Linked DNA regions of Homo sapiens: region 2 is linked to region 1. Evidence: fine-mapped expression QTL. A gene starts in region 1. The other region holds a variant in brackets. All regions are shown on one strand. Distances are from middle to middle.

What was found. PIP is the estimated chance that this variant, and not a neighbour inherited with it, causes the effect.
Region 2: its variant is the best candidate, but not a certain one, in a credible set for the expression of PRKG2 in whole blood (TOPMed, PIP 0.82).

What each region holds. Positions count from the first base shown.
Region 1 is chr4:81,212,845-81,218,230 of GRCh38, forward strand. It overlaps PRKG2 (protein kinase cGMP-dependent 2), which reads right to left and starts at 2,378. Exons shown (of 19, transcript NM_006259.3): 1 at 2,092-2,378. It overlaps LOC124900726 (a long non-coding RNA gene), which reads left to right and starts at 2,042. Exons shown (of 2, transcript XR_007058162.1): 1 at 2,042-2,114; 2 at 2,721-3,380. RefSeq lists enhancers at 1,410-1,910, 1,911-2,411.
Region 2 is chr4:81,161,657-81,167,042 of GRCh38, forward strand. All of the region lies in intron 6 of PRKG2 (protein kinase cGMP-dependent 2), which reads right to left. It overlaps PRKG2-AS1 (PRKG2 antisense RNA 1), which reads left to right and starts at 3,284. Exons shown (of 5, transcript NR_125908.1): 1 at 3,284-3,342. RefSeq lists an enhancer at 2,455-3,654. The variant G/A (reference allele first, on the strand shown) is at 2,819.

The DNA of each region.
Region 1 (5,386 bases):
AGAGAGGATGTGAAGAGATTAATATTAGAAGAGGGTGAGTAGGAGGAACACTGCAGGATAGCATCTCTAATGTAGTAATTAAATGGATGTGCATGGGAGGGCAATCAAAATGATTTCAATGTTTTGATCTTAGGAGGCTTGAAGGAAAGTATTACTATCTACTCTTCATTCATTCAGTCATTCAAAAAGAACACATAGGGCACCGTGTATGGGCTAGACACTGTGGCACTGACAGAAGTCAGGAGAATGAGCATGCTTTGAAAAGACAGTAATGAGTCTGGATTTACATATATTGAGTTTGAGATGCTTGTGGGTCATCATGATGCAAATGTCTAGCAGGTAGAAGCAAAAAAGAAAACTCAAGGGAAGAGATTGCTCCATAGAAGACTTGAAGTACCATTTGTAGATGAGATCACTAAGGGAGGTAAGAAAGGAATGTCTCTATTGTTACCTATGAACATATAGGTAATATCTGTGGATATTATTTGTGGGAGAAGAGGAGGAGAAGCAAACCACAAAGGAGAAGGAACACGTGTACCAATAAGAGATTTAGGAGAAGCATCAGAAAGGCCATGCAGATAAGATCCTTAAGAGGTGAGCAGGCTGTACCTCACATCCCACAGGCCTGTCACAGCAAATGAGATCAGAGAGAAAAGTGCTGAATCTGATTTGTCAAAGAGTGGGGATAGACACTCAACTACAAGGGACCATGGAAAGAGCTGACACTAAGAGTAGAGCCTGCAAGACGATATCATGATTCATGTGAGGGATTTTTAAAATAATGAAAATTTGAAAATGTCTGTAGCTCCAGGATAATGAAGCACAGGAGATATGAAAAACGAAAACATGGGAGAAGAAGAGATAATTCATAGGAAAAATAGCCTAGAGGAAGCAAGACAATAAGGGATCACAGGACTTGGGCAACAGCCAGGCAACATATGCCTTCACTGTGAGGTGAATTCTCATTAGCCTCACTTGTAATGACTTCATAGAACTGGAGTTAAGGATTTCACGTAAAAGAGAAAGATCCCTGGGCATCATCTTTTCAGGTCGTTTATTCTTAGTCATACAGCGTTCCAACGGAGAGGATGCACTCTAATTCTCCATAGAGAATTCTCTACCATATTAGCTCATACCCTCCTGTGCAAAACTAAACAGGAGTACTGAAAACAGCTAGTGTATGTTATGTGGGATGATCGCCTTCTTCATGAGTTAAATAGAAACTTGCAAAGAAAAGAGACAATTTCTAAGAAACTCTAAATATGGGGGTGTGGTGGGGTGGGGGCAGGTGTATGTTGCTCTCTTCCTTAAAAAAAAAAAAAAAAAGAAGGAGAAGAAGAAGAAGGAAAAAGCCCCTGGGAACTTGGGGAACAAGATGAAGATCAGGAAATCAAGGCATTTGTCCCAGCGTCACCCTTCCTACCTACTAATTCTGCATGCGTTGCTTTTATTGTCAGCTCTGGCCTCAGCTGCTTCGTAGTTGCACCGTAGTTCTTCTCAGAACTGAACCTATTTCTTTTTTTCTCATCCCCAAAGTGGCTGGTTTCTGGGCTTTGTTTGCTCTTGTTTCTTCATCACCGAGAAATACAGAAATATGAAAGCGCCTCACGGTGCCCAGAGTGACAAAAGGACACCCACACAAGTTTACCAGGACTCCTAAAAGTCCTTGCCTGAGGACTGTCCCCTAGCAACTACCCAGAGCTCGACGAAGCAAAGCCGGGAGCGCAAGCCCTGACAGCACCGCCAAGCCCCTAGCTCGGAGCAACAGCCTCCACCGCTTCTCCTCGCTAAACCTAGAGAACCCTGAGGACTCCCCACTGGGGCTGAGCCCCTCCCGCCCTCAACAGAACCTCTAAACACAAGTAGCCTTTCCCTGCCTCCAGGAGCTCACGAAACGCTGCCACACCGAGCGAATGCAACGCGTACACACGTCCACACTCGAACAGCACAAGCAAGAGACCGGCTGGGTGTGGAATAGAGGCGCACATCGCGCAACGCATTCACAGCATGCACACGCGCGCACCCCGACCCCGTCCCTCCCCGCGCGCCCTCACACCCCGGCGCCCAAGACCCCCGGCCCACGAACCTCACCAGACAGCCGGGTAACTTTCCAGGTGCGCAGCTTGTCACCTCGGCGCGGCCGCCCCTGCGTCTCAGCGTCCTCTCCCACGCCGCCCTCCCCAGCCGCCTGCGGCGCCGGAGCCCAGCGCAGGTCAGCTCAGCCAGCCCCGCCGTGCACACGGTGCGCAGCGTGGGCCCGGGGCTGCCGGCTCAGTCGCTCCGGCTACGTGTGAGCCGGGGGCGCGGGTTAGCGCGATGCGGGCAGGAGCTGCGGCGGCGTCGGTGCTGCCGCCTGGCTCCGCGGCGGGGGCCGGTGCAGAGGAGACACGCAGGGAGGGAGGGAAGAGAGGAGGGAAGGAGGAGGGAGGGGGTCAGCCGGGGCTACTGCCTGGATAGTTGGGCGCCGGCTTCCCTAAAGGTGGGGTCACCCGCGCCCGCACGCACACTAGCCCGAACCTTTACTCCCGACACAGCCGCAGTCTGCACTTTATACCCCATACCCTCCATAGTGAGGCAACTTAAGTAGGGCGATAACATCGTGGTTGTAAGCATTTTTGTTCATGTTATTATTTCTATTTCAAGTGTGTGGGACGAGGGGAGAGGAAAGTTCAGGGAGGTGTTCATTTTTTCCTTCCCCTCCCTTTCCTCCATCCTTCCAGTCTGTTTTCACTGCAGGCTCTCTCCACTTCGCCTTCCCTCCCAGAGCTCAAACAGGCGCACGTACCCTGGACATGCCCTCCTCTGTCACACCAATGCCTTTCTACGAAGACATGTGACCCCGAAGCAGCTCGTCGACGCGCCCCTCCCGGACTCTGGGGCCATAACTTACATCTAGTTTGCCAGTTCACGTGATGCTGGGGGCAGGGGTTGAATCGAGTTTCGAGGGACAGAGATTATACCTTCCGAATCTGCAGGTCTTTGGGAAGGGAGCTTTCTTGATCACCCAAGAAGATAATGCTCTCTCGTCACCTTTTGAGTACATTTTTTTTTCCTGAAGGGTGCAATATGGTTTCCTAAATATATATGTACACCCCACCGCATTATTTGCTGTGCTCTGGAGTTGTGAGATCTCCATGTGGCTTTTTCCCTTTCCTTCTGCCCCCAGAGGAATTTCACCAGCAAATTCACGGAGGACAAGGGCAGTTTCTGTGTTGAGAGATGGAAAGTATAGTGAGGGTCTATTCCTCACTGTGCATCTAGAGAATGTTACAACCAACTCTCTTGGGTTTTTAAACCACATGGTGGCAGTGGGGCTCATGTAACATTTGTATACACTGTTACATACATAAACTTATATTAAAAATGAGGCCCATGTAAAATATGTTGAATGAGACCATTAAGTTTCAGAGGAGGAGGAATATAGTCCTGTTTGTTTTTGTGCTAACTGGAGGAAAATCGCGAAAGTACACAAAGTACCTTTTCATGAAGCTATCCCAGAGTCTGTACATTTTATAAAGACCTCAAAAAAAAAAAAATTAGAGGAGAAAGGAGTGAGGAAGAATTCCACAAGAAAAGAGAAAATAAGTAATTGTATGTCACTGTAATAATGGACTTTTAAGTTGATGGGCTGAATTTTTATTAGCGATTTAATGACAAAAAGGAGAAAAACAGATTTTCAAAGTCTTCACTTTAAAAAAAAATTTCAGATTCAGGGGTACAAGTGCAGTCGCATTACACGGACATAACACATAGTGGTGAGGTCTGGGCTTTTAGCGCACCTATTACCCTAATAATGTGCACTGTACCTAATAAGTTGTAATTCCTACCTCACCCACCTCCCACCCTCCCACCTATTGGAGTCCCCAGTGTCTGTTATTCCATTCTGGATACTCATGCCTGCCCATTGTTTAGCTGCCACTTATAAGAGATTCTGCAGTTTTTGACTTTGTTTCTGAGTAATTTCACTTAGGATAATGGCCTCTAGTTCCATCCATGTTGCTGCAAAAGATATGATTTCATTGTTTTTGTGGCTGGGTAGTATTCCATTGTGTGTGTGTGTGTGTGTGTGTGTGTGTGTGTGTGTGTGTAGTACCCCTGAATCAAAAAAAAATTTTCCCAGTTTTTCAGGTGATAGGTACACAGTGTATGTGTGTGTATACCACCATAGTGTGTGTGTATATATTTTGTATATATATATATATATATATATGTGTATATATATAATATAAAACCACATTTATAAATCCAATCACCCCTTAATGGACACGTAGGTTGACTCCATGATTTTGCTATTGTGAATAATGCTGCAAAGTCCTTACATTTCATTGAGTCCTGGGCTTTTTTAAACAATGGGTTGCTAATTAATGGATTATAAAATTGATGTACTGGGTCAAAGCCAGCATTTTTAAAATGATACCAAATAGAATAAAAAATAGCAGAGTATGCACGCACACTGGGTCAACTGGGTCATATGTACTTTCTTACCGTTCATTGAGGTAAAAGCTTGAAAGCTGTCGATGCAGTGCAGGCTGTTGCCCAGGGTCACCCAGCTAGGAAGAGTTTGAGGGGGAACCTAAGTTCCCTCCCAGCAATCCTATGCTCTGTCAAATCTACAACTCTACCATGCTGAACAAGGAAACGGAGGAAGAGAAGGAAAGTGACCACTTTTTGAGCTTTTAATTCAGTCTTTCAACAAATGTGCTTTCAGCAGCTCCTGCATCTCAGGCCCAGTGCTAAATACTTAGAATTCAATGGTGAACAAAATTAACTTGTGATCTCTGCCAACTTAGAGTGTACAATCCAGTGAGAGAAACAGACATTAAATAAGTAAACACAAAAGTAAGCATATGTGGGAGAAATACTGTGAAGGAAAATGAGAGAAAAAAATATGGGGTTATAATTTAGATGTGGGAGGCTGCAATTAATAATTAACCCAATTTAGAATGGCTTAAATTATAAGGAAACTTACTGTTTCACAAGGCAAGAAGTTCCAAGGTCAGGAGGCTCTAGTTGGTGAATTCAGGAACACAGTTGTGTCTGGGAAGGCCCTGGCCTGTTCCCGTTATTCCCCCTGCCATTCCCAGTATGGCAGCTTTGTCCCCTGGGGCTGCTCCACCCATGGCCCCAGGATGACTGGAACAACTCCATTTATTATGGGCAATCCCAACAGTGCCCAAAGGTCACAGAGATTCTCTTTTCCAGAGTCGGGAAATCGTTCTTGGAAGCTTCCAGGAGACTTCTCACCTGTCATTAATCCAAACTAAGCATGTGCTCACACCTAAATGCTGGAGGTGGAGGGGAGAATCACCATTCCCAGCCTCTTAGGCTCTGCAGGACTGGTTCCTAACTCTTCCCGATTGCATTCTTTGAGAAGTGCATACCCGAA
Region 2 (5,386 bases), 51 kb before region 1:
CCATCCCTGCAGAGAGCCCCCTCCATCTCAGAACCAGTGATGGCATGTTCATTTCTTACCCTCAGAGTCTCTCTGGATTTCACTTCTGCTGCATCTCTCTGACCCCAACCAGAAATAATTCTATGCTCATGCAACTATATTCAATAGTTCATTCACCTAGCCAATTAATGATAATCTATTTTAAAGTCCCAAACTTTAAGCATACCATTAAAGTCCCTTTTGCCATGTAATATAACATATTCATACATTCCAGGGATTAGAATCTGGATATCTGGAAGGGGGGGTGGGGCAGGGGACCATTCTGCCTACCACAATAAGCCAATGAAAGGCAATGTTGCCTGAAATAGTAGGAGCATCTAAAATATAGTAAATGCACAATTAATTGTTGCCATGCTAAGAAGGAGGATGATAATGATTTGCTCAGCTGTTTCCTACATCTTCTGGACCTCTGTTTCATTTTCTGTAAAATTAAGATTATATTTACTACTACACCTAATGTTGTTTGAGGACTAGTTAAGACGGTGTATCTAAAGTACCTGATGGAATGTTTAGTGCACACCAGGTACCCGGTGACTGTTAATCTTACGAAAGAGGCTGTAAGCTGGTCACGAAAGTCTTCCAGAGGAATATATGATTGTCCAGGTAAGTTACACTTGCCAGCCTTCCTGCTGTTAGCTATGGCCATGTGATGAACTTTTATCTAAAATAATCTGAGTGGAAGTGATCTGTGACAATTCCACACCAAGCCCATGCATGCTTTCATGCATGTGTCTTTATACTTTTTCCCCAATTATAATGGCATGGCCCACACAAACCTGGAAAACCACATGTTGAAAATGGCAGAGTAGACATCAGCTTGGATTCCCAAATGACTGTGTGGAGCCAATTGGGACTATCTTTCCTGGACAGTTATGTTAACGAGTGACAAACTTCTGTTTTATTTAAGCAATGATATTTGGCGTGTCTTTGCCTCATAGTTTGCTTACTCAAACCCTTCATCCCTTCCCAATTTTAGCTTTATCACAAACCTTGACTATATGCAGTGTGATTTTGCAGTGGAGATGACTATGACCCTTATAGGATGATCCTGATCCCCCACACAGTCCAGCTGTCTTCACCACATAGCTAACATTCAATGTTCTTTGCTATAGCTGCGGGGATTGTGTTCGAAGTTCCTATTTCAGACAGTCTGCTCTTCAAGCTCTCCTGTTCCCATCACAATTTCAGTCCTCATTACCCACATGGAGCAGAAGAAACACAGAGAATTTCTGAAGTGCTGTTAGGCTGTTCTTCAGTTATTATGAAGCCTTTGATGTGTGCAGAGGTGTGGCTTTAATTCCTAACAACCGAATAACTTCAAAGGGGGAAAAGCTTGAAAGGGGATACTGAGGAAGACCTTTGTTATTTTTTAAGGGACAACCTTCCTAGTGGTATTTTTCTCCACGGATGATTCTTTGTCACCCAAAACCATGGGAGGAAGATAAATAATACCTCCCAGTGTGTTGACAGTAACTTCATAGATCAGAAAAGGCTGTGGAAATAGGTCAGACCAAAAATATATAGTGGTAAGTACTGACTGTGATGCTAGACTGCCCAGTGTTTGCCAACTGGGGAGTGCAACCAGTCAAGCCAGGGTGGTCACTGAGACCAAAAAGAGAAATGCAAATAGTGTGGTTATTGTCCTTGTGGTTACATTGCAAAGGTGTCCCTTAGAGGACCAAGAAGCCATAGACCCTATCCTGCAGAGCAATGGTTTTCAAGCATGTTTTAATTCTGACCAACAGTAAGAAATACATTCTGCATGTACTCCCAATACACACACAAGAGCAGGTACACATATTTATACAAAATTGAAACATTTTTCAAAATAATACTTATACTTACTATTCTGATTTTTTAAATGTTCCTCTAAATTGGTTTCATAACCTGGTAATGAGTTGTAGCCCATTTTTACTGTAAACAAAATGTTCATTCTGTGATAATCTAGCAAAATGCTAGAGCCTGAGTACCTGTAAATACAATATATAAAACCAGAAGGAAATTCCAAAGTGACAGAGGACAAAGAAAATGAAGGAAGGCAATGACTTCCTTAGAGCCTTTAATTTGCAGCTACAAATCTTCTTTATAAGTATCTTGCAAAAAGCAAATGAAATCCTCATTAAAAAGAAGTATTGGAAGTACTGATGATATACAACCAGATGTATAGTACACACACACACACACACACACACACACACACACACACACCTCTGTGCATTATGTGACTATGTACCAAGTGTGTCGGTTAAAAAATTGTTTACAGTTAGTTATTTATGTTGTTACTAGTTAATCTTTGTTTTCCAAGTACAAGAGTTTAGAACACCTCAGAAGTTTTAAGGCAAGCACACCTGGATCAGGTGGGCCCAGTCAGCCATTCGGGCATGTAGCACCTGATTGGTTATTTTCAAAGAACCAGATACTACAAAATGAAAAACAACAGAAGTTATTTCTATTTGGGTGAGCCAATCATATAGAATTCTATGATTTAAATGTTGAAAGAGCTCATAGAGATATGGCCCACCACTCCATTATTTTGTAGATGAAGAGATGATATGCTAAAGCCTACCACAATTCATTGACAGCTGGTAGAGTGACAGAGGCAGAACCACAAGCCCTAATCTCCAGACTTTGGACTAGTGAACTTTGTACAACACCTGGCTGCCCCACCTTTAGCTCAATGGTTCATAAACTGTAGCGAAATCTACAATTATTTCAACTTTCTTATGGCTCTGGATTTAACCGTTAGGATGACAGGAAAAAAAAAAATCCTGGTTTATGC[G/A]AGTGTTGGTAAGGACTACAAGAAAGACTAGACTTGAAAAAAGTGATTAAAATGGAAAATTCCCAAAGAAAGAGGCAGACGGTTGCAAACTCTAAACATTCATAACTAAACCAGTGCTTCTTAGACTTTAATAAGCATAAAAATCCCACCATTAGAGTGTTAGGTGTGGATCTGGGGGCCCCAACTTGAGTTTCCGATTCAGTAAGTGTGGGGTGGTGCCTGGGAATATGCCTTCTCATCGGCACCACAGGCAATCTGACTAAGGGCAAAGGTGCTCCACACTACACCCTCATCCCAGCCTCAAACACCTCAGCTTTGTGAAAGATGGCAGGTTAGAGTCACAGTGCAAAAGGCCACTGGATCAAATACCAAAGCACTGTGACTAACAGGTGACTTTATGATGAATCACAATGTTTGTAGTTCAGGAGGATGTCACAGTCAAATCTCATGCTTAGTGGATTCATCACCATGTGTGGGGGCAGAAACTACTTCCACTCTTACCTTCCATACTGCATAACTGCCAGGTACGTAAGTCATATTATTATTTTCATTGTCGTTAATCTGTACACTCCGTTCTGAATCTATATCATGCTTTACAGTTCTCATTAGTTAACTCTTAATGAACTCTAGTATGTTGGTGTTATTCCCACCCTCGTTTTCTTATCAGAACACAAGAAGAGGCTTAAAGGCAATGGCTGCCTCTATAAATGTTCTGAGTGATTTAAGCTAAAGCAAGAAATGCCATTGGAACATTGCACAATCAGGGCCATTTGTTCTAGGAGTTCAACCGTCTAAGTTTCAACAAATACATCAGATCAATTACTTGGTGATGGGAAATTCTGATTCTCCCTTCCTTACCCCCTGCTACATGCAAAACTCCCAAATCAACTCCTAAACTGCATGACAGATTTAGCCTGTTTTTTTCAAAGATTATGGGGACAGTTTGTGGGACAGCTGGTCCTAGAACTCTGGACACTGTCAAAAATGATGCAGTAGTGATTGGCTGTTGTCAGGACCAAGTTGATGGGTCATTAGTCCAAGCTATGCTGGTAAATCACATGCATTTCTTAGCGCTAAATAGATCCCATTACTCTCGTTAATCACTTTCACATTTGAGAATTTTCACACATCACAGAGACACATTTGTTTGCCAGGTATGAATAAAGAGTCCTTTATAAACTGTGCTGCTGTCTGCAAATGCTGAGATACAGCAAATCCTTTCCAGGGTGTTTGAAAAGATGAGTTTTTCAAATTTGAATTGTGTGTTAATTATTACTGGATTTGAGCCCCCATCTATATATTCTGTAGCAATTGCCTGTGGCTGCTATAAATACGTCTAATTTACCATTTATTTTTAATGATACTAAATTTTCATATTTGCTGTCAACATAGAAATCCCCTCTGGTGAATCTACTCTATTAGTATTATATTAAAAACAGATTTCCTTGGTTAACAAAAAAAACTAGGGCCTCTCCAGCTTTAAGTAAAAAAAAAAACACCCTTAGAAATTAGGATGAATTATTAATTTGTAACATCTGTGACTGGGTTATGTTACAATGGGAGACTCTCCAGAGATGCAGGCTAAGCAATCTTCTTGAAAATGACTTCATATCTGAACCCCCTGGGGCCACACGGCCAGGCACTGTGTCATCATGGTCTGTCCTTGATAAACTGCTGGATGGGTTGCATGAATTGTAAATGGAAACACTGCTGGTGTCACTTACACTTAAGGATAAAATGGTCCCTACTCCCTGCTTGACAGATATTAGTTACATTGTATATTGTGATTGACAGAGGCATGAATCTGTCAACAATCAGCCTTGCAGGGTTTTGGGGGTTTTTTTTCCTCCCACTGAGAACAGCTTTATAAAAGCTTAAATTCTATATGTGACTCCTTTACTATTCCTTACCTCCTTTAAATTCCATAAAGCCATCTGGGTTTCAATGAAATTGACCCCCCAAAAAGTTAAAGAACGTATTTGCTTTGAATTTTAATTCTCTGAAATCTGAAGACGTTTTCACAAAATGCATATCGTTAGAATCCAAGGTACATGTCGTAAAAGCATTATTCATGAAAAGACTTGACTCGTCTTGGACTAGAACCAACCATCTGGGTGATGCCTAAAATGAGTTTTTGAACACATTCCAATATGCCGTTTCCCCCTAGATGTTAAAATAGATAAAGTGCTTCTTAAATACAGTTTTTAAAATGTGTTTTTTGTGGCCTAGAGTGTTCAAGTAGAAAGTGTTTCACAGCCTGACTCAGAGGCTTGCCACCAAAAGGACCAACATACCCTTTCTCTGCTCCATTTCTTAATTATACATCAGTGACTCCTTTATACTATGAAAACTCTGTAGGGGATTGTGATGTTAATTGTAGAAAATCAAATGCTTCTTGAGTAAGGCAGGTTTGTTTTATAAGATATACTAAAAAGATTAAAATATGTAAATCAAATTTCACTTTACACATGCAAATCCAATTTCCTTTTATACATCTGAAGAGTTTAAACCTTTCTCCACCCCTTAACACAGCATGAGTTGGCTTAAGATTTTTCACCATAGAAAAAG